Regions from separate parts of the Homo sapiens genome. Here region 2 is linked to region 1. Evidence: fine-mapped expression QTL. A gene starts in region 1. The other region holds a variant in brackets. All regions are shown on one strand. Distances are from middle to middle. Region 1 holds the start of MADCAM1-AS1 (MADCAM1 antisense RNA 1). Region 2 holds the start of LOC124904608 (a long non-coding RNA gene).

The links. PIP is the estimated chance that this variant, and not a neighbour inherited with it, causes the effect.
Region 2: its variant is fine-mapped to the expression of MADCAM1-AS1 in nucleus accumbens (GTEx, PIP 0.99).

Annotation. Positions count from the first base shown.
Region 1 is chr19:502,774-511,687 of GRCh38, reverse strand. It overlaps MADCAM1-AS1 (MADCAM1 antisense RNA 1), which reads left to right and starts at 3,799. Exons shown (of 3, transcript XR_936221.4): 1 at 3,799-4,312. It overlaps MADCAM1 (mucosal vascular addressin cell adhesion molecule 1), which reads right to left. Exons shown (of 5, transcript NM_130760.3): 5 at 6,345-6,943. The coding sequence ends at 6,723. TPGS1 (tubulin polyglutamylase complex subunit 1) reads right to left here and starts at 4,191. Exons shown (of 2, transcript NM_033513.3): 1 at 3,844-4,191. The coding sequence starts at 4,181. RefSeq lists enhancers at 1-610, 909-1,208, 4,046-4,385, 4,258-5,115 and silencers at 765-1,059, 4,916-5,045.
Region 2 is chr19:484,738-493,806 of GRCh38, reverse strand. It overlaps LOC124904608 (a long non-coding RNA gene), which reads right to left and starts at 4,641. Exons shown (of 2, transcript XR_007067072.1): 1 at 4,102-4,641; 2 at 3,737-3,941. It also overlaps a transcript of CIMAP1D not described here. RefSeq lists silencers at 4,252-4,301, 4,372-5,001 and enhancers at 3,829-4,330, 7,636-8,154. The variant G/A (reference allele first, on the strand shown) is at 3,726.

The DNA of each region.
Region 1 (8,914 bases):
CTGGTCCAGCTCCGCAAGCATCCACGCGGCCCCTCGGTGTGCAGGGCTCTGTGCCTGGCCCAGGCCTGCCTCGGGTGTTCGTCTGCCCCTCCCAGCTGTGTGCACTCTCCTTTTCTGCACCTGGCCTTGTGCATCTACGGAGTGGGGGTTCTTGTGAGGACGGGAGAACGGGGCTGGAGCCAGGTGCTCAGGACAGCAGCTGGCATACGTGTGGGAGGCCCCACCTGCTTATTTTGGGCTGTAATTAGGGCTGCAGCTCAGCCACAGCTGCCTTGAGGGGCAGGAAGACACACAAAGAGGTAATTACAGCCTGGTGAGATCACAGCCATGATGACGGCAGGAGACAGGAAGGTGACAGCCCACTTCAAGGCGGCCGCATACCCGCCCCTCCTGGGCTCCCGGGCGGCTCCCAGCAGAATCATCGGGTGAGGGAGGAGGAGGAAGAGGAAGGCAGCAAGCTCTGGGCTCGGAGGAGGAGGCCGGGGCTGGAACGTCAGCTCTGCCTGTGACGGTGGCCTCTGGGCCTTGGTTTCCCTGATTGCAAAATGGAAAGCGGGAGCCCAGCCAGGGCTCCGTCTGTGTCGGCTCCTACACAGAGCGGTTTGTAAGGCGTGTGAGCATTTGTTAATACAGGAAAGATTCTATTTATGGAACGTCTCCAGAAAGAGACAGGAGCCACCCTACACCTTAGACTTCTGCTTCCCACTCCTGCCCCCAGCAGACGCCGGGCGGTGTCTGGGACATCTGTGGTTGTCACGACTCGGGGAGCTCCTGGCAAGGAGTGGGTGGAGGCCAGGGACGCTGCTCAGGGCCCTGCAGTACCCAGGACGGCCCCCAGAGGACGAGTCGGGGGAACCCTGGCCCAGATCAGCTGGGGCTTCGTTTTCGTGCACGTTTTCCTGGCAGTGACCTGCAGGGGGCAGTGCAGCCCTTGCTGCCAGGATGAGCAACGTGGTGGCTGAGGAGGCCTCCGGGGCTGCACTCTGGGGCTCTCTGACCCCAGCTCTGCCCTCGGTGGCCGTGTGGCCTTCAGCAAGTCATGTAACGTCTGTGTGTGTGCTCCAGGGGGCCTTGGAGACGACCAGGAAGGTGGCAGGAGGGGGACACTGTGGCTGCCATCACCAGCCCTGGCGGCCGGAGCTTGCCATTTCTCAAAAGAAGGTGCCAGGGAGGATCTGGGGTGACTTCTCCCCCAGCCTACCACGGTGATGCTCTCAGGAGCAGCCCCAGTCAGCCCCTCAGCCTTTGGGGGTCAACACACTGGACTGAGTGGGGACAAATCTGCCAGGCTCTGAGCTTCTCTTTTTTTTTTTTTGAGACAGAGTCTCGCTCTGTCGCCCAGGCTGGAGTGCAGTGGCGCGATCTCGGCTCAATGCAAGCTCCGCCTCCTGGGTTCATGCCATTCTCCTGCCTCAGCCTCCCGAGTAGCTGGGACTACAGGCGCCCGCCACCACACCCGGCTAATTTTTTGTATTTTTAGTAGAGACGGGGTTTCACCGTGTTAGCCAGGATGGTCTCGATCTCCTGACCTTGTGATCCGCCCGCCTCGGCCTCCCAAAGTGCTGGGATGACAGGCGTGAGCCACCGCGCCCGGCTGCTCTGGGCTTCTCTTCCTGACTGGTCAGGTGACCTCAGGGGTTCCTGACGGTCCAAGGATGGAGGGGCGGCCGGAGCTGCCTGCTGGGAGGACGGGAGCAGGCCTGGCTCCATGAGCACAGAATCAGATGCCACGCAGGTCTGTGCACCTGTCTTCTGCATTCCCCACTGGCTGTGTCTCTGGGGAGCCCAGGCGAGCCCAGGGCCGGGATGCATCTGCCACCAGCACCACCCTTGCCCTGAGTCCCTGCTATGAGAACTCTTCCAGCCAATGGCTCCACTCCTGTCCTGGGGTGACTGGTGCCCACCAAACTCACGCCCATCCAGAACCTCAGACTGAGAGCTTATTTGAGACAGCAGCTTTGCAGATGTAGGCGGTTGAGGTCACACTGGAGTAGGGTGGGGCCTAGTGGTGTCCTTATGAGGGAACACAGAACAGAGACACACAGGAGGCCACGTGACGACGGAGGCAGAGACTGCAGCAATGTGGCCACAAGCCAAAGACTGCTGGCCGCCACTGGAGGCTGGGGAGGCAAGGAAGGCTCCTTCCCTGGAGCCTCCAGAGGGAGTGTGGTCCTCCTGACACTCCGATTTCAGACTTCTGCCCTCCAGAACTGTGAGAGAATAAATTTCTGTTGTTTTAAGCCACTAAGTTGGAGGTAATTTGTTCCAGCAGCCCTCGGAAATTAATATAAATATAAATATCCTCATCTGCAGTGTCTACGGGGTGAGTGGCTTGTGCAGTGCTCAACCTGAACAACCATACGTGGTGGGCCTGCTGTTGACCCCTTTTCCTCCTTGGGAGATTCTCTTCCGGATGTCCTGGGAGGCCATCTTCCTCCTGCTCCCCGTTCACCTCTGGTCTCACGTTCTCACCCTCTCTGGTGGGCTCTCTGGGCTAGGTGCCCTCAGAGTGGGGTCCTGAGCTCTTCTCATCTCTCCTGAAGACTTCAGGACCCCTCCAGTTCAGTCTTCTGTCCTGGCCCCACGTCAGTTGCAGACGCTTCTTTCTACCTTCCTGTCTCCAGGCTCCTCCCAGCCTCCAACTTAATCCGCAAGTGGCTCTGGCAGCTTCTTCAAACCAGGGGCCTTCCATCGCAGTAAACGGCTCCACTGACCCTCTGGGCCTGCCCTTGCCCGCTCCCCTCCCACCTGGCTCCAGCAAATCATCGGGCGGGGCCTTCAGAGCCACTGGGCCACCGGAGCAAGTCTGCTCCTTGTCCAGGTACCCAACACCCTGCCACCCTTATCTGAGTATGATCTTGGACACCTGTGCACCCTGAACGTGGTAGGGGGGACACTCCCCATCTCTCTTCTCCCCCCGAACTTCTCTGGGACTCTGGCGAGGGCTGCCATGGTGGGCGCTTATGCCCTGGTTATGAGGCTGAAAGGGCACCTTTGCTTGGCATCCTTCCCTGCCTGCTCTTCCCACCCCCTTCCTGGGTTCTCTTGGGCGCACCCCCTTGTAAAATCACCTGCACACACAATGCCTACCTCAGGCTCCGCTTCTGGGGACCCCCCCCCCAACAAAAGACATCAGCCCATCCATCCCCAACGCCAACAGATAGTCCCCAACCACCTTCCCTGGGCTCAGAACTGGCCCCAGCCAGGGGACACCGCGCGTAGGCACCTGCAGCCTCGCATGCTTCAGCCAAATTCCGTGGCTTTCCCGCCTCCCGTGTGCCCCACACTCGGGGTCTAAATTTGCACCTGCTGGGCCTCTTCCCTGCAACCCGCCCGCACATCGCCAGGCTCTTCCAGGAATCCCCACCTGCCCGCTGGGAGCCTGTCCCCTAAGATGGGGGCCCTGGGTGACTGCGCTGCTCTCTGTAAATATTCACGTTCTGGCTGAATGGACGGGGATAACATGAGGCTGCTAAGGAGGCGACTAGGAGGACCTGGCTCGGGGGCTGGCTCTGCGACCTCGGGCCAAGTCCTCTTGAGCTGCACGATTTTGAAAATCATGAACTGCAAGGGGAAACTCAGCACCTGCAAAAAGGCATCACAGAAGGCGAAGCCGGCCAGAAGGACTCGCGCCGCATGCAGCGCGCTGCCTAGCGCCGGACCGAAGCCCGGACCCTCCAGCCCACCTTGTCCGATCCATCCCACCCAAGAAGGCATCGCGCACTACAACTCCCAGCAAGCCCCGGGCCCCTGCGCCGGCGCTGCGGGTAGGGAGCCGCGCGCGGCATGCTGGGAGTTGAAGTCCATCGCTGCCCCACCCGCCCAAGCCGGCCCACTGCGCACCTCTGGGAGTGGTGGGCCAGGCGAAGGTGCCATAGCGCGCGGCCCAGGCGCTGCTGCTGCAGCAGGAGCTGGCCCGGGGGCTCCCCGGCGCCGCCGTTTACAGGCGAGCGCAGGCCCATGTTCTCGAAGTAGTGAGCCAGGAAGGCGATCGGCTCCTCGGGCCGCGCCTCCAGCACCTTCAGCAGGGCCGCACGTAGCATTTCCGTCACGCCGACCTGCCGCAGGAAGTCCTCCTCGCTCTCGGCCGCCCCCGCCGCCCGGGATACCGACTGGCGGCCGCTGTCCGTGAAACCGGCCGGCGGTGGTACCGCTTGCCGCCGCTTCTCCACTGCCGCCATCTTCGCTGAGGGCAGCGGGACCGGAAGCACCGCCATATTCCACTGTGCGCTAGAGCCCCCCCAAGGCGGCCATCTTGATTAAGGGCAGAGGGCACCGGTATCCCGCTGGGAGACTTTGGGAAGTGACAAGGGTACGCTACCACTTTCCTTGTGTCCTTATTGGCACTCTCTCTTCTCCTCCCTCTTTGTGTATATTGATTGGCTCTCCTGGCTTTGGCCTCGGTCCTGAATTTTGCCAGACTCCAAAATGGCTGCCTCGGAAGTGCTTCGTTTCTGGCACAAAGCCGGATTGCTTGCCATTTGGGTAGTGAGCGAGTCCTTCATTAGCATGGTCTCCTAGCAACCAGTCTCCCTGGTTAGCAGAGAAGCCTGACGGAGCATGCGCGGGGCTGGACCTGCCCAGGACTGCTGGACCCAGCCCCGCGCCCGGCCCCCAGACCCTTTTCTCATGTTCATCTCTGAGCCTTGGTGCTGGGGGTCGAGCTCAGCCTGGCCTTCCGCCTAACTCAGTCAACGTCTGAGTGCGTAGCTCACCTCGTGGGAGAAGCCCCCTCCCCAGCTCCGCTGCAGCTGCGCTGAGCCCCTATTGGCGGCCACACGGGCGAGCATCCCGCGCTGTTACCCCCTGACCGCCAGAGGGAGCTTTCTGACACCGCAGCCTCCAGAGCTGTAAACTCTGCCATGGCTCTCCAGGGCCCCCGGGCTGGCACCTCCAGGCCTTCATCGCCTGACCTCGCTTCCGGCCGCCCTCCCGGCCCTCCCAACCCTCCGCAGCCCGCAGCCACCTCAAAACACAAGCAGTCTCCTCCATAAGCCGCCTCTGGGTGTGTTTCCCCAGGCGACCTCTGTGGATCTTCCCTCACTGCTTTCGGGGACTCCTGGTTAAGCTTCTCACCGAGGAAACCACTAAGCCCTCGCGTTTCCCCGCCCCGGGCAGAGCTTGCTGGGTGCCGTCCCCGTCCCTCAGGGGCGTTGCCCCGGGCAGGGGGCAATGAGAGCTGTTTGCCGGGGGACCGTTCCACCATCCTCCCAGCACAGGAATCTCTGGCGGGCAGACCAAATGCCCTTTGTAAAACGTGAAGTAGAGGTTCCTCTTCAAATGAGACTTTCCTCCCCATCTAATTAGGAATAAATAGTAACTTCTCTTAGAAGCAAAATGTATTCAAAGGCCTGTGGTAGGCCGGGCGCGGTGGCTCACGCCTGTCATCCCAGCACTTTGGGAGGCCGAGGCGGGCGGATCACGAGGTCAGGAGATCGAGACCATCCCGGCTAACACGGTGAAACCCCGTCTCTACTAAAAATACAAAAAATTAGCCAGGCGTGGTGGCGGGCGCCTGTAGTCCCAGCTACTCGGGAGGCTGAGGCAGGAGAATGGCGTGAACCCGGGAGGCGGAGCTTGCAAGTGAGCCGAGATCGCGCCACTGCACTCCAGCCTGGGCGACAGAGCGAGACTCTGTCTCAAAAAACAAACAAACAAAAGACCTGTGCTAACATTCTTTGTTAATTAATTGTTAATGTTATATTGAATATATATAATGTAATAAGGAAATCAACATACTTTATGTTCTTAGTGCCCACAATGTAGGCTAAATATCTGCCCTGGCATGCTTATACTGGTCCAAGCAAGCATTAGGTCATAACCTGTTCCTCTTCCTTATTTGAAGGTGTTTTTACCTTTCTTAGCATTCCACAAGCTACTTCTTCCTTCCTTTGTTCTCCTCTGCCTTTGCCTCTTTTTAAAAGTTCCAAGCTGCTAGCCGATCGGGATAAATACAGAATGTGAGGTCCCGTTCCAGCCAATGGAAACCGTCCCGTTCCAGCCAATGGAAACCGGACAGAGCAGTAGGGTGGACGCGTCAGGTTATAAATGACCCTGTCTCCTTTGTTCTGGATACTCTCGTGGCAAAACTGCTGGCCAGTGTACCCTTTCTGCAGAAAGTAAAACAGTGGCCTTGCTGAGGAAATGACATTTATATTCAAGTGCTATTTCTTTACGGCACCGGGGAACAAGCATTTCTAACACTTTCTTCTCCAGCCCCGGACTGTGGGATGAGGGAGATGGAGCCATCAGGGCAGGACCCACAGTCAACCCTCTGCTGTCCGGAGCCCTCAGACCTCTCCTCTCCACGGAGTGGGTGTCAACTGAGAAAACTGACACGTTTGTATCATTTTAGGAGGTTTATTTGCCAAAGCCTCAGGAGGTCCTGACGACAGGGGCCCAGGGTGGTCAGGGCACAGCTTGGTCTTACGCATTTTTAGGGAGACGTGAGACATGAATCAATGTATGTAAAAAGTACGTGGTTCCGTCCAGAAAGGTGGGGACCACTCAGGGAGGGGCTTCAGGTCATGGGTAGGTGAGACAAACAGTGGCCTTCTTTTGAGTTTCTGATGAGCTTCTCCAAAGAGGCAATCAGAACATGCATCCATCTCTGTGAACAGAGGGATGACTTTGAGTAGAATGGGAGGCAGGTTTGCCCTGACCAGTTCTCAACTTGAAGGGGTCCAAGCTATTTTGCTTTCACAGGGGGAAAGGCTGGCCACTCAGGAGGGGCTGATCCCGACCTGGCCGGTCCCCCTTAACCCAGCCCAGGCCGACACCTGGGGCAGAAGCCTCAGAGAAGCTGGTGGGTGGGTGTCGTCCTCAGCCAGGTGCCGGCAGCGTTTCCAGAGGTGATAGGTGGGCAAGGCCAGGAGCAGCAGTCCCAGCACCGCACTGCTGGTCCACAGAGCCGCGGGCAGCTGGTCACCCGCAGGTTTGGACGCTGGGGAGAGAGTGCAGGAGACCCCGGTCAGAGCCCTCCAGGCCTCTGCAGGCTTGGGAAGGGAGGAGCCCCTCAGAGGCTACACGTGCTTCCAAAGTTACCACGTTCCCTGAAATTTCACAAAGGACTTTACCATGACCCTTTTGAAATGCGCATAGCACCTTAGAGTTTAGAAATGGGCAGTCCAGGCCAGGCGGGGTGGCTCACGCCTGAAATCCCAGCACTTCGGGAGGCCAAAGCGGGTGGATCACGAGGTCAGGAGTTCGAGACCAGCCTGACCATGGTGAAACCCTGTGCCTACTAAAAATACAAAGTTAGCTGGACATGGTGGCAGGCGCCTGTAATCCCAGCTACTTGGGAGGCTGAGGCAGGAGAATCACTTGAACCCGGGAGGTGGAGGTTGCAGTAAGCTGAGATCGCACCACTGCACTCCAGCCTGGGTGACAGAATGAGACTCTGTCTCTCAAAAAAAAAAAAAAAAAAAAAAAAGGGCAGACCGGAGAGAGGACGGCTCACCACCATGAAGGGTGCTGAGCCTACAATCTGCACTTTGAAGACTTAGTCTGGGGAAAAGGGAGGAATGTAATATATCTCCTTCATACTATTTTATATTGATTACCTGTTGAAATGATAATGCTTGGGATATATTGGGCTCTGCGAAATGTATGACCACACTTTTTTTTTTTTTTCGAAATGGAATCTTGCTCTGTCCCCCAGGCTGGAGTGCAATGGCGTGATCTTAGCTCACTGCCACTTCCGCCTCCCGGGTTCAAGTGATTCTCCTGCTTCAGCCTCCCGAGTAATCCTCAGCTGGGATTACAGGCACATGCCACCACACCTGGCTAATTTTTGTATTTTTAGTAGAGATGAGGTTTCACCATGTTGGCCAGGCTGGTCTCGAACTCCTGACCTCAGGTGATCCTCCTCCTTGGCCTCCCAAAGTGCTAGGATTATAGGCATGAGCCACCGTGTCTGGCCAACACTTTTTTTTTTGAGACTGAGTCTTGCTCTGTCACCCAGGTGTGATCTCAGCTCACTGCAGCCTCAACCTCCTGGGCTCAAGTGATCCTCCTGCCTCGGCCTCCCAAAGTGCTGGCATTACAGGCATGAGCTACCATGCTTGGCCCGACCACATTATTTTTACTTTTAATTTTTTTTTTTTTTTTGAGACGGAGTCTTGCTGTCTCCCAGGTTGGAGTGCAGTGGCGCGATCTCGGCTCACTGCAGGCTCCGCCTCCCAGGTTCACGCCATTCTCCTGCCTCAGCCTCCCGAGTAGCTGGGACTACAGGCGCCCGCTGCCACGCCCGGCTAATTTTTTGTATTTTTAGTGGAGACGGGGTTTCACCGTGTTAGCCAGGATGGTCTCGATCTCCTGACCTCGTGATCCGCCCGCCTTGGCCTCCCAAAGTGCAGGGATTACAGGCATAAGCCACCGTGCCCGGCCCATTTTTTTTTTTGAGATGGAGTCTCGCTCTGTGCCCCAGGCTGGAGTGCAGTGGCGCGATCTCGGCTCACTGCAAGCTCTACCTCCCGGGTTCATGCCTTGCCTTTACTTTTAAATTTGAAATTACCTGTAGGAAGTAGAAAAGTTCCTCTTCAAAGCTCGTCTTGATTTACAAATAAAATAATAGACATAGACACTAGAAATAATAGCTTCTTACTCTAAAGCCTCCTATCAGCTATTAGTTCTTACACTTTAGCCCAGTTAGTTGCTTGGGCTTACCCAGGCATATCTGGAGAGTCCCAGGGAAGTCTTAGCTCATAGCTTATGCCCCTTCCTTATTTGGAAATGTTACTGCTTCCTCAAATCTTTCGTAAGCAACTTCCTCTCCTTGTTTGTCCTCCTTTGCGCTTACCTACTTAGGAAAGTTTTAGGTTGTTAGCAAACTGGGTATCAGTTTAAGAGTGTGATATCCTGCTCCAGCCAGTGGATGCAGGACACAGCAGTAAGGGCGACCCAAATGTGTGAG
Region 2 (9,069 bases), 18 kb after region 1:
GAGGCAGAGGCAGAGGGATGGAGAGACCGAGGTGGGCCAGCAGCCTGAGGGCCGGGGAGGACCCTGAGACCCCTGGGTCTGAGTCCTAGTCCCACAGGAAGGCCTACACCGTATCTTCCGCCGGCAACGGGGACCTCCTTTTTGTCCTTGGGAGACTCGACCCCGCCCCCAACATCAATCCCCTTCCCGGCATTGTCCTCGGCGGCCTCCGTCAGGAAGCCCCCTTCCCATGGAGGGTCCCAGCCAGGAAGCCCCCCTTCCCATGGAGGGTCCCAGCCATCCCACCAGCCCCAGACCCCACATCCTGGCCTCCCTGTCCACAGCTGCCGAGGGAGCGTTCCAGATGACTGTGTTGCCCTGAGGGGAAGGGGCTGTGAGGGCGCCGTTGTCCAGGAGCGGAGCACGCCCCAGGCCCTGACAGACCCTTCTTGACCCAGCTGGGCCAGCTCTCCTGTCTCCCACCCACTGGTCAGTTCTGGGGTCCTCATGGCTTTTTCTTTGGAGTGAGGACCCCCATCACGGCAGGGCCTCCTTGTTGGACAAGGCTTGAACCCAGTCCAAGGACCCCAGACCTGAGGGTCGCAAGGAGAGTGGGGGAGGAATGAGATTGATGGAGGCTGCAGGAGGGGGTTCAATAAGTAGCCATGTGCATGCATGTGTGTGTGTGCATGCGTCTGTGTGCGTGCATGCGTGTGTGCGTGTGTACGTGTGGAGTTGTAGCCATGAAGCCCACGATGGGGGTGGGCCTGGCTCCCGCATCAGGTTTAAGGAGGAAGGATCGACCGGGCGCGGTGGCTCACGCCTGTAATCCCAGCACTTTGGGAGGCCCAGGCGGGTGGATCACGAGGTCAGGAGATGGAGACCATCCTGGCTAACACGGTGAAACCCCGTCTCTACTAAAAATACAAAAAAGATTAGCCAGGCGTGGTGGCGGGCGCCTGTAATCCGAGCACTTTGGGAGGCCGAGGCGGGCGGATCACGAGGTCAGGAGATCGAGACCATCCTGGCTAACACGGTGAAACCCCGTCTCTACTAAAAATACGAAAAAAATTAGCCGGGCGTGGTGGCGGGCGCCTGTAGTTCCAGCTACTCAGGAGGCTGAGGCAGGAGAATGGCGTGAACCCGGAGAGGCGGAGCTTGCAGTGAGCCGAGATCGCACCATTGCACTCCAGCCTGGGCGACAGAGCAAGACTGTCTCAAAAAAAAAAAAAAAAAAAAAAAAAAAGGAGGAAGGAAGGATCTTCGTGGCCCACCTGGCACAGGTCCCTGAAGGAACCCTTGTCCGAGTCGAGTCCCTCCCCGCAGGCTGGCCGAGCTGACCACGTCGCTGAGCCTGGGCAGAGCTGACAGGCCTCCCTGGGGTCAGTGACCGCCTGGTGAGGGGCTGGGGCAGTGCTCAGTCTCCAGCAGCCCCGGGGAAATTGGACATGGAGCCTCAGGCGATGATGCTGGTGTGGTCTCCACGGCAGCCCCACCTGAGCTAATCAGGAGGGGTCTGGGGGGATGGGGGTCCATGGGGCAGGAGGCACACTATGGTGAGAGCCGGCTTGGGGCTGGCTCCGCCCAGGGGAGGGGGGGCTTGGGGCTGGCTCCGCCCAGGGAGAGGCGGGGCCTGGGGCTGGCTCCGCCCAGGGGAGGGGGGCTTGGGGCTGGCTCCGCCCAGAGGAGAGGCGGGGCTTGGGGCTGGCTCCGCCCAGGGGAGAGGCGGTGCCTGGGGCTGTCTCCTCCCAGGGGAGGGGGGGCTTGGGGCTGGCTCCGCCCAGGGGAGAGGCGGTGCCTGGGGCTGTCTCCGCCCAGGGGAGGGGGGGGCTTGGGGCTGGCTCCGCCCAGGAGAGAGGCGGTGCCTGGGGCTGTCTCCTCCCAGGGGAGGGGGGGCTTGGGGCTGGCTCCGCCCAGGGGAGAGGCGGTGCCTGGGGCTGTCTCCTCCCAGGGGAGGGGGGGCTTGGGGCTGGCTCCGCCCAGGGGAGAGGCGGTGCCTGGGGCTGTCTCCGCCCAGGGGAGGGGGGGGCTTGGGGCTGGCTCCGCCCAGGAGAGAGGCGGTGCCTGGGGCTGTCTCCTCCCAGGGGAGGGGGGGCTTGGGGCTGGCTCCGCCCAGGGGAGAGGCGGGGCCTGGGGCTGTCTCCGCCCAGGGGAGGGGGGCTTGGGGCTGGCTCCGCCCAGGGGAGAGGCGGGGCTTGGGGCCGGCTCTGCCTGGGGAAGCGGCGAGGCCTGGGGCCCTGGTCAGCTGCTCTGACGCCTTGGTGCTCCCGGGGGCATCTCCAGGCTCACCCCAGCTTCCACGGCCCTGTCTCACGGGTCAAAGGGCCACTCAAAAGCTGCTTTGAAGACGGGGGCCCAGCCAGGAGCCGCACAGGCCTCTCCCGAGGGTCTAGGTGGCTAGAAGGGCACAAGCCACACGGCGTCGCGTCGAGAGACTGAAATTGTCTATGAACCGCCCTCGCCGGGTTTGAGACTAGAGAGCTGGTGTTTACACGACGTCGCAAACACCATAAAGGGCACTAAACTGTTTCTTTAAAAGCCTTCTTTTTTTTTGAGACGGAGTCACTCTGTCGCCCAGGCTGGAGTGCAGTGGTGAGATCTTGGCTCACTGCAACCTCCGCCTCCTGGGTTCAAGCGATTCTCCCGCCTGAGCCTCCTGAGTAGCTGGGATTATAGGCACGTGCCACCATGCTCAGGTAAGTTTTGTATTTGTAGACTTTTTTTTTTTTTTTGAGACAAAGCCTCACTCTGTCACCCAGGCTGGAGTGCAGTGGCACGATCTCAGCTCACTGCAACCTCTGCCTCCCAGGTTTAAGCAATTCTGTCTCAGACTCCGGAGTAGCTGGGACTACAGGCGCCTGCCACCACGCCCAGCTAACTTTTGCATTTTTAGTAGAGACAGGGTTTCACCATATTGGTCAGGCTAGTCTCAAACGCCTGACCTCAGGTGATCCGCCCGCCTTGGCCTCCCAAGGTGCTGGGATTACAGGCGTGAGCCACCGCGCCTGGCCAATTTTTGTATTTTTAATAGAGACGGGGTTTCCCCATGTTGGTCAGGCTGGTCTTGAACTCCCCACCTCAAGTGATCTGCCCACCTTGGGCTCCCAAAGTGCTGGATTACAGGTGTCAGCCACCGCGCCTGGCCCTGAAGCCTCCTTTCTAACACGAATATCAACTTAGAAACGGACGCAGCTATTGGAAAACATGTGCAACAGCTAGGGTTTGTGAAGCCACTTTTCCAACTAGAACTTTAGTGGCCTGAAGTGCAGGTTGAATATTTCCTGTGAGAATTAGGAAGTGGACACAAATGTGCAAAATACACACTGGGCTCTGAACGCTCAGCGTGAACAAAGAGTGTACAGCATCTCAACATGTATTGCTTATGAATCGAAAGGATAGTATTTTGGACACAGTGGATTAAATAAGATAAAGATACATCTTTGTTTTACGTTTCTTTCTTTCTTTTTTTTTTAGCTGGAGTTTCACTCTTGTCGCCCAGGCTGGAGTACAGTGGTGCTATCTCGGCTCACTGCAACCTCCACCTCACGGGTTCAAGTGATTCTACTGTGACGGCCTTCCAAGTAGGTGGGACCACAGGCATGCGCCACCACGCCCGGCTAATTTTTGTATTTTTAGTAGAGACGAGGTTTTGCCATGTTGGCCAGGCTGGTCTCAAACTCCTGACCTCAGGTGATCCACCTGCCTCGGCCTCCCACAGTGCTGGGATTACAGGCGTGAGCCAACGC[G/A]CCCGGCCTTGTTTTATGTTTCATACGATTTATTTTACTTACTACCACCCATTTCTTTTCTTCTTTCTATCGTGGCCGCCGGACGTGGGGCTCCCGCTCCGCTTCTGGGGACGCCGCTCTGGCCTCTCTCAGCACCGGGCAGGGGCCAAATGTGGGTGTTCGCCCTGGGTCGGGGTTCAGGCAGAGCCGCAGCCTCCTGGCTGGGAGGGTTCTCGCCTGCAGGCCGGCGGCCTCTGAGGACGACTCGCTCTCCATTCGCCACCCAACCCGCGCTGAGTGCTGGACATCCCGAGCGCGCTCTCCGTCCCTGCAGTTCCTAACGGGTTGGGAGGGTGGTTCTCCCCCGGCCGCAATCCCGCCCCCAGGAGGCACTAACCCTAACGTGGCATCTGGGGCCATCTGTGGTTGTCACGACTGGGAAGGGGGAGATCCTGGCCTGCACGGTCACCCACAGGCCCGACGGCCCCCGGGAGCCTGTTTCGGGTGCAGCACACCCGGGCTGGATCGAGCACGGTCGGGGAGGATGCGGGGCTGGGCCAAGGCCCTCGGCTCTGCAGGGAGGACGGAGAGCGGGTCCGGGGGGTCCGGGGAGGGAACGGGGCCGAGGCTCTGCGTCCACTGCCGGGCCGATGGGCCATGGGCTGCGAGGGCGGGTCGGGCGTAGAGGGTCTGGCTGGGAGGGCGGGTCAGAGGTCGGGGCCGCGGGCTGCGAGGGCGGGTCAGAGGTCGGGGCCGCGGGCTGCGACGGCGGGTCGGGAGTCGGGGCTCGGCCTGCGAGGGTGGGTCAAGGGTAGGGGGTCCCGGTCGGGGCCGCGCTCAGCACTCAAAGCGCCGCCATCCCTGCTGATGACATTCTCGACCCGCAGGGCGCAGCTGACCAGCCGCTCCCCCTCCTTTTCCGCGGGTGCAGCTCACTGGCCCTGCCACTGCGCGCGCACCCACCCCGCCCACAGCTCCCGGCAGCTCCCGCGCGGCCCCCGCAGCTGAACCACAACTCCCGCCATGCCGCGGAGCGCGGGGCGCCGGGGCGTGTGGCCCACAAGGCTTTGCGCGCTGGCGGGGCCGCTCTAGCCCGCGGTCCTCCGAGTTCGTGGCGGGCTGATGCGGGCTTGGGGCGGGCGGCGCGGACGCCCTGGCGGCTGTCTCGCCCCGTGGTCGGTCTCCTCGCGTTCCCACTGCGGGGCGCCCCGGCTGCCCTTGCGTGGGGCCCGGCACGGGGCGGCCGAGGGGGCGTCCCCGCCGCGAGTCTTCCAGCGCGCTGGTCCCGGGAGGCCTGGCCGTTCGCCCAAGGAGCCTGGTGTCCCCGGGCGGAGACTGGGAAGCCGGGTCCTGTTCCCCGGCGCTGGGCTCGCTGCGGGGGTCGGGGCCGCAGGGCCCGGTCGGGGATCCAGGTTCCGGGACGCGGATTCTGGAGTAGGGGCTGCGGGGCTTCCGGCCCGCTTCGCGGGTCAGGGTCACCGGGAGGCCGTGGTTGCGTTGGGGGTACCCGGACGTCAGTCCCAGCAGCGCGAGGGACGAGGGCGCTCGTTAGTTCCACACTGATTTACTTGTTATTTTTTTGAGACGGAGTCTCGCTCTGTCGCCCAGGCTGGAGTGCAGTGGCGCCATCTCGGCTCACCGCAAGCTCCGCCTCCCGGGTTCACGCCATTCTCCTGCCTCAGCCTCCCGAGTAGCTGGGACTACAGGCGCCTGCCACCACGCCCGGCTAATTGTTTGTATTTTTAGTAGAGACGGGGTTTCACCGTGTTAGCCAGGATGGTCTCGATCTCCTGACCTCGTGATCTGCCCGCCTCAGCCTCCCGAGGAGCTGGGATTACAGGCTTCAGCCACCAAGCCCGGCCTTTTTTTTTTGTATTTTTAGTAGAGATAGTGTAGCAGGAAGAGCCGCAGACAAAACTCCTCAGACACCCAGTTAGAGAAGGAAGCGGTTTATTCGGCCGGGGCCATCGGCAAGACTCCTGTCCCAAGAGCCGAGCTCCCCGAGTGAGCAATTCCTGTCCCTCTTCAGGGCTCACAACTCTCAGGGGGTCCGCGTGAGAGGGTCGTGATCGATTGAACAAGCAGGGGGTACGTGACTGGGGGCTGCATGCACCGGCAATCAGATCGGAACAGAACAGGACAAGGGTTTTCACAGTGCTTTTCCATACAATGTCTGGAATCTATAGATAACGTAACCCAGTAGGTCAGGGGTCGCTCTTTAACTACCAGGCCCAGGGCACAGCGCCGGGCTGTCTGCCTGTGGATTTCATTTCTGCCTTTTAGTTTTTACTTCTTTCTTTGGAGGCAGAAATTGGGCATAAGACAATATGAGGGATGGTCTCCTCCCTTAATAGAGTTTCACCATGTTGGCCAGGCTGGTCTCGAACTCCTGACCTCAGCTGATCCCCCCTGCCTCATGCTTGTTATTATTTTGACACAGGGTCTCACTCTGTGGCCCAGGCTGGAGCGCAGTGGTGCGATCTCCACTCACTGCAACCTCCGCCTCCTGAGCTCAAGCAATCCTCCCGCCTCGGCCTTCCAAAGTGTTGGGACCACAGGCACACGTCATGCGCCCTGCCAGCACATCTTTATTGAGTGCCTGCTGTATGCCAAGCGTTGTTTTAAGTGCCAAGGAGACAGCAGAGTGCAAGGTGGGCTGACCTCGGCCCGAAGGAGCTTACATTCTAGTGAGCAGCAGGGAAGAGAGACCATGAGCCAGGCTAGTTATGCCATAAACCTCGGGCATAATACCGAAGTGGTGCTGTGCGGAGAAATGTTGAACAGCTGGCTCTCCAAGGGAAAAGGCCCTCACTTGCAGCGCACGCCGCCCCCTGTGTTGTAAATACTCCCATCGTGGCTGCCAACATGAGCCAACCAGCTCACAGATCGCCGCGAACTTCACAGTGGGCTCAGGAGCTGGCATGAGCAGCTCCAGCCGCCGCTGCAATAGGTGAGGCGTGGAGAGTGCTGCTGGGAAGAAGGAAAAGGCAGGGAAGGGGGCAGGCAGCATGATGATAGGCAGGTTGCAGGATCAAATCTGTGGTCCCGATAGGCCGGGCATGGCGGTTCACACCTGTAATCCCAGCACTTTGGGAGGCTGAGGTGGGCGGATCACTTGAGGTCAGGAGTTTGAGACCAGCCTGGCCAACATGGTGAAACCCCATCTCTATTTCTTTCCTTCTTTTTTTTGAGATGGAGTCTTGCTCTGTCGCCCAGGCTGGAGTGCACTGGCACAATCTCGGCTCACTACAAGCTCCGCCTCCCGGGTTCACGTCATTCTTCTGCCTCAGCCTCCTGTGTAGCTGGGACTACAGGCGCCTGCCACCACGCCTGGCTAATTTTTTGTATTTTTAGTAGAGACGGGGTTTCACTGTATTAGCCAGGATGGTCTCGATCTCCTGATCTCGTGATCTGCTCGCCTCAGCCTCCCAAAGTGCTGGGATTACAGGCGTGAGCCACCGCTCCCGGCCCCATCTCTATTAAAAAAGACAAAAATTAGCTGGGTGTGGTGACGGGCGCCTGTAATCCCAGCTACTTGGGAGGCTGAGGCAGGAGAATCGCCTGAACCCACCAGGCGGAGGTTGCAGTGAGCCGAGATTGCGCCACTACCCTCCAGCCTGGGTGATAGAGCAAGACTCCATCTCAGAAAAACAACAGAAACAAAAAATCAATCAATCAATCAGTGGTCCAAGGAAGATCCTGGAGGTGGAGAGATTTGAGCAAGGCCTTCCTGGAGGGGGAGGGAGTTGGACCGGGTGTATCAGGCAGAATGTACGGTGAGTGCAGAGGCTGAGTCCGGAGGGACCAACGCAGCCAGAGAGGGCAGGAAGGACCTGGGCTTGTAGGACCTTGCAGGCTACAGCAGAGCCCACTAGGACCCCTCTCCAGCCCCCCAAATCCTCGGAATACAAGCCCTTCCTTCCTCTGAGCTTCGGTGTCCTCGTCTGTAACATGAGGACTTGCCAGGCATGGGCTGGGTGCCCAGCAGAGCCTGAGAGCTGGTCCTGTCCTCACTGTCCCACGGGGACAGCAGGCTCTCTCTGGATGAGGATGGAGGGGAGCTGGCAGGTTCTCTGTGTCCTTGCGGGAAGAACAAGCCTTCCTTGTTAGAGTCTCCCGGGAACAAAGGGGCGGGCAGCAGCAGGGCGCGTGAGTCTGAGTCAGGGGGCTGGCCGCCGGACAAAGGACAGCAGTGAGCAGCCTCAGGGAAGTGGGGAGTGGCAGATCACGGAGGCTGGGAGCATGAGCTGACCCTGGACGGGCCGGTGGCAGCAGCCACAAACACCTGGCCTCCCCCTCTCCTGCTGTGCCGTGTGCCAGGGACACAGAAACAGCAGGTCATCGGAGGAACCCGGCCTCCTGGGAGCTGCCTCCCAGCTGTCGCACCCTCATCTGCAGCCGGAGGATGTGTTTTAGGAAAGAATGTCGGGAACTTGGGGCTGGCACCGTGGCTCACACCTGCCCTCCCGGTGCTTTAGGGGGCTGAGGTGGGAGGATCGCTAACCCCAGGAGGTCAGGGCCGCCTCATTCCCACCATTCTCTGATCACCCTTCTCCACCGTCAGTGAGCTGTGATCGCGCCAGCCTGGATGGTGGAGTGAGACCTTGTCTCTAGAGAAAAGAACGGTGGGACTTGGATCGGCAGCAGCCACAGCAGTCATGTCTGTCATCTGGACTATTGTAGAGCTTCATTCCACTCACTGGCTCAGCAGGCACTCACTGCGCACCTGTTCTGGGCAGGCGGTGTTTGGGATGCCCAGGGCGCCACGGGGCTCGGGCACGCCCGGCTCCTGCCTCTTCGTGTTCCTATGTGAGCACGCGTGTGTGTGCGCGCCTGCCTGTGTGTGCCTCATCGTGCGCACCCACGTGGTGTAAACGTGCACCTGTGTGTGTGTGTGTACGTGTGTTACGTGGTAGAGCACGGCAATGACCCTCCATAAACAACTAAGCAGGTCAGCAGGGTCCTCCGCTGGGTTGAGGTTGCACCCGCCCTTCCAGGACCCTCCCCTCCTCTCACTCCCCTTCACCCCACAGCGTCTCAGAAAATCTTGTGAGTTCTGCCTTCAAGACAGGCCCAGAACCCACCCACTCCTGACCATCCCACAGCAGCCCCCAGCCCAGGCCCCGTGGTGCCCACCTGGGCTGGTGTGCTCGCCTCCCCCGGGCTTCCCTACCCCCACCTTCCTACCCTCAGTCGATTCCTTCAAACCCAATTCAGGCCGTGCCCTCCTCTGCTCCAGCAGAGGCCTCCGTGGCTCCCACCCTGCTCAGGGTAAAACCCTGTGTCCTCTCCGTGTCCTCAGGGCCCTTCACGACCTGCTGGGTCAGCCCCGCCCTCCCTCCTCCTGCTCTCCCCTCCTCACCCT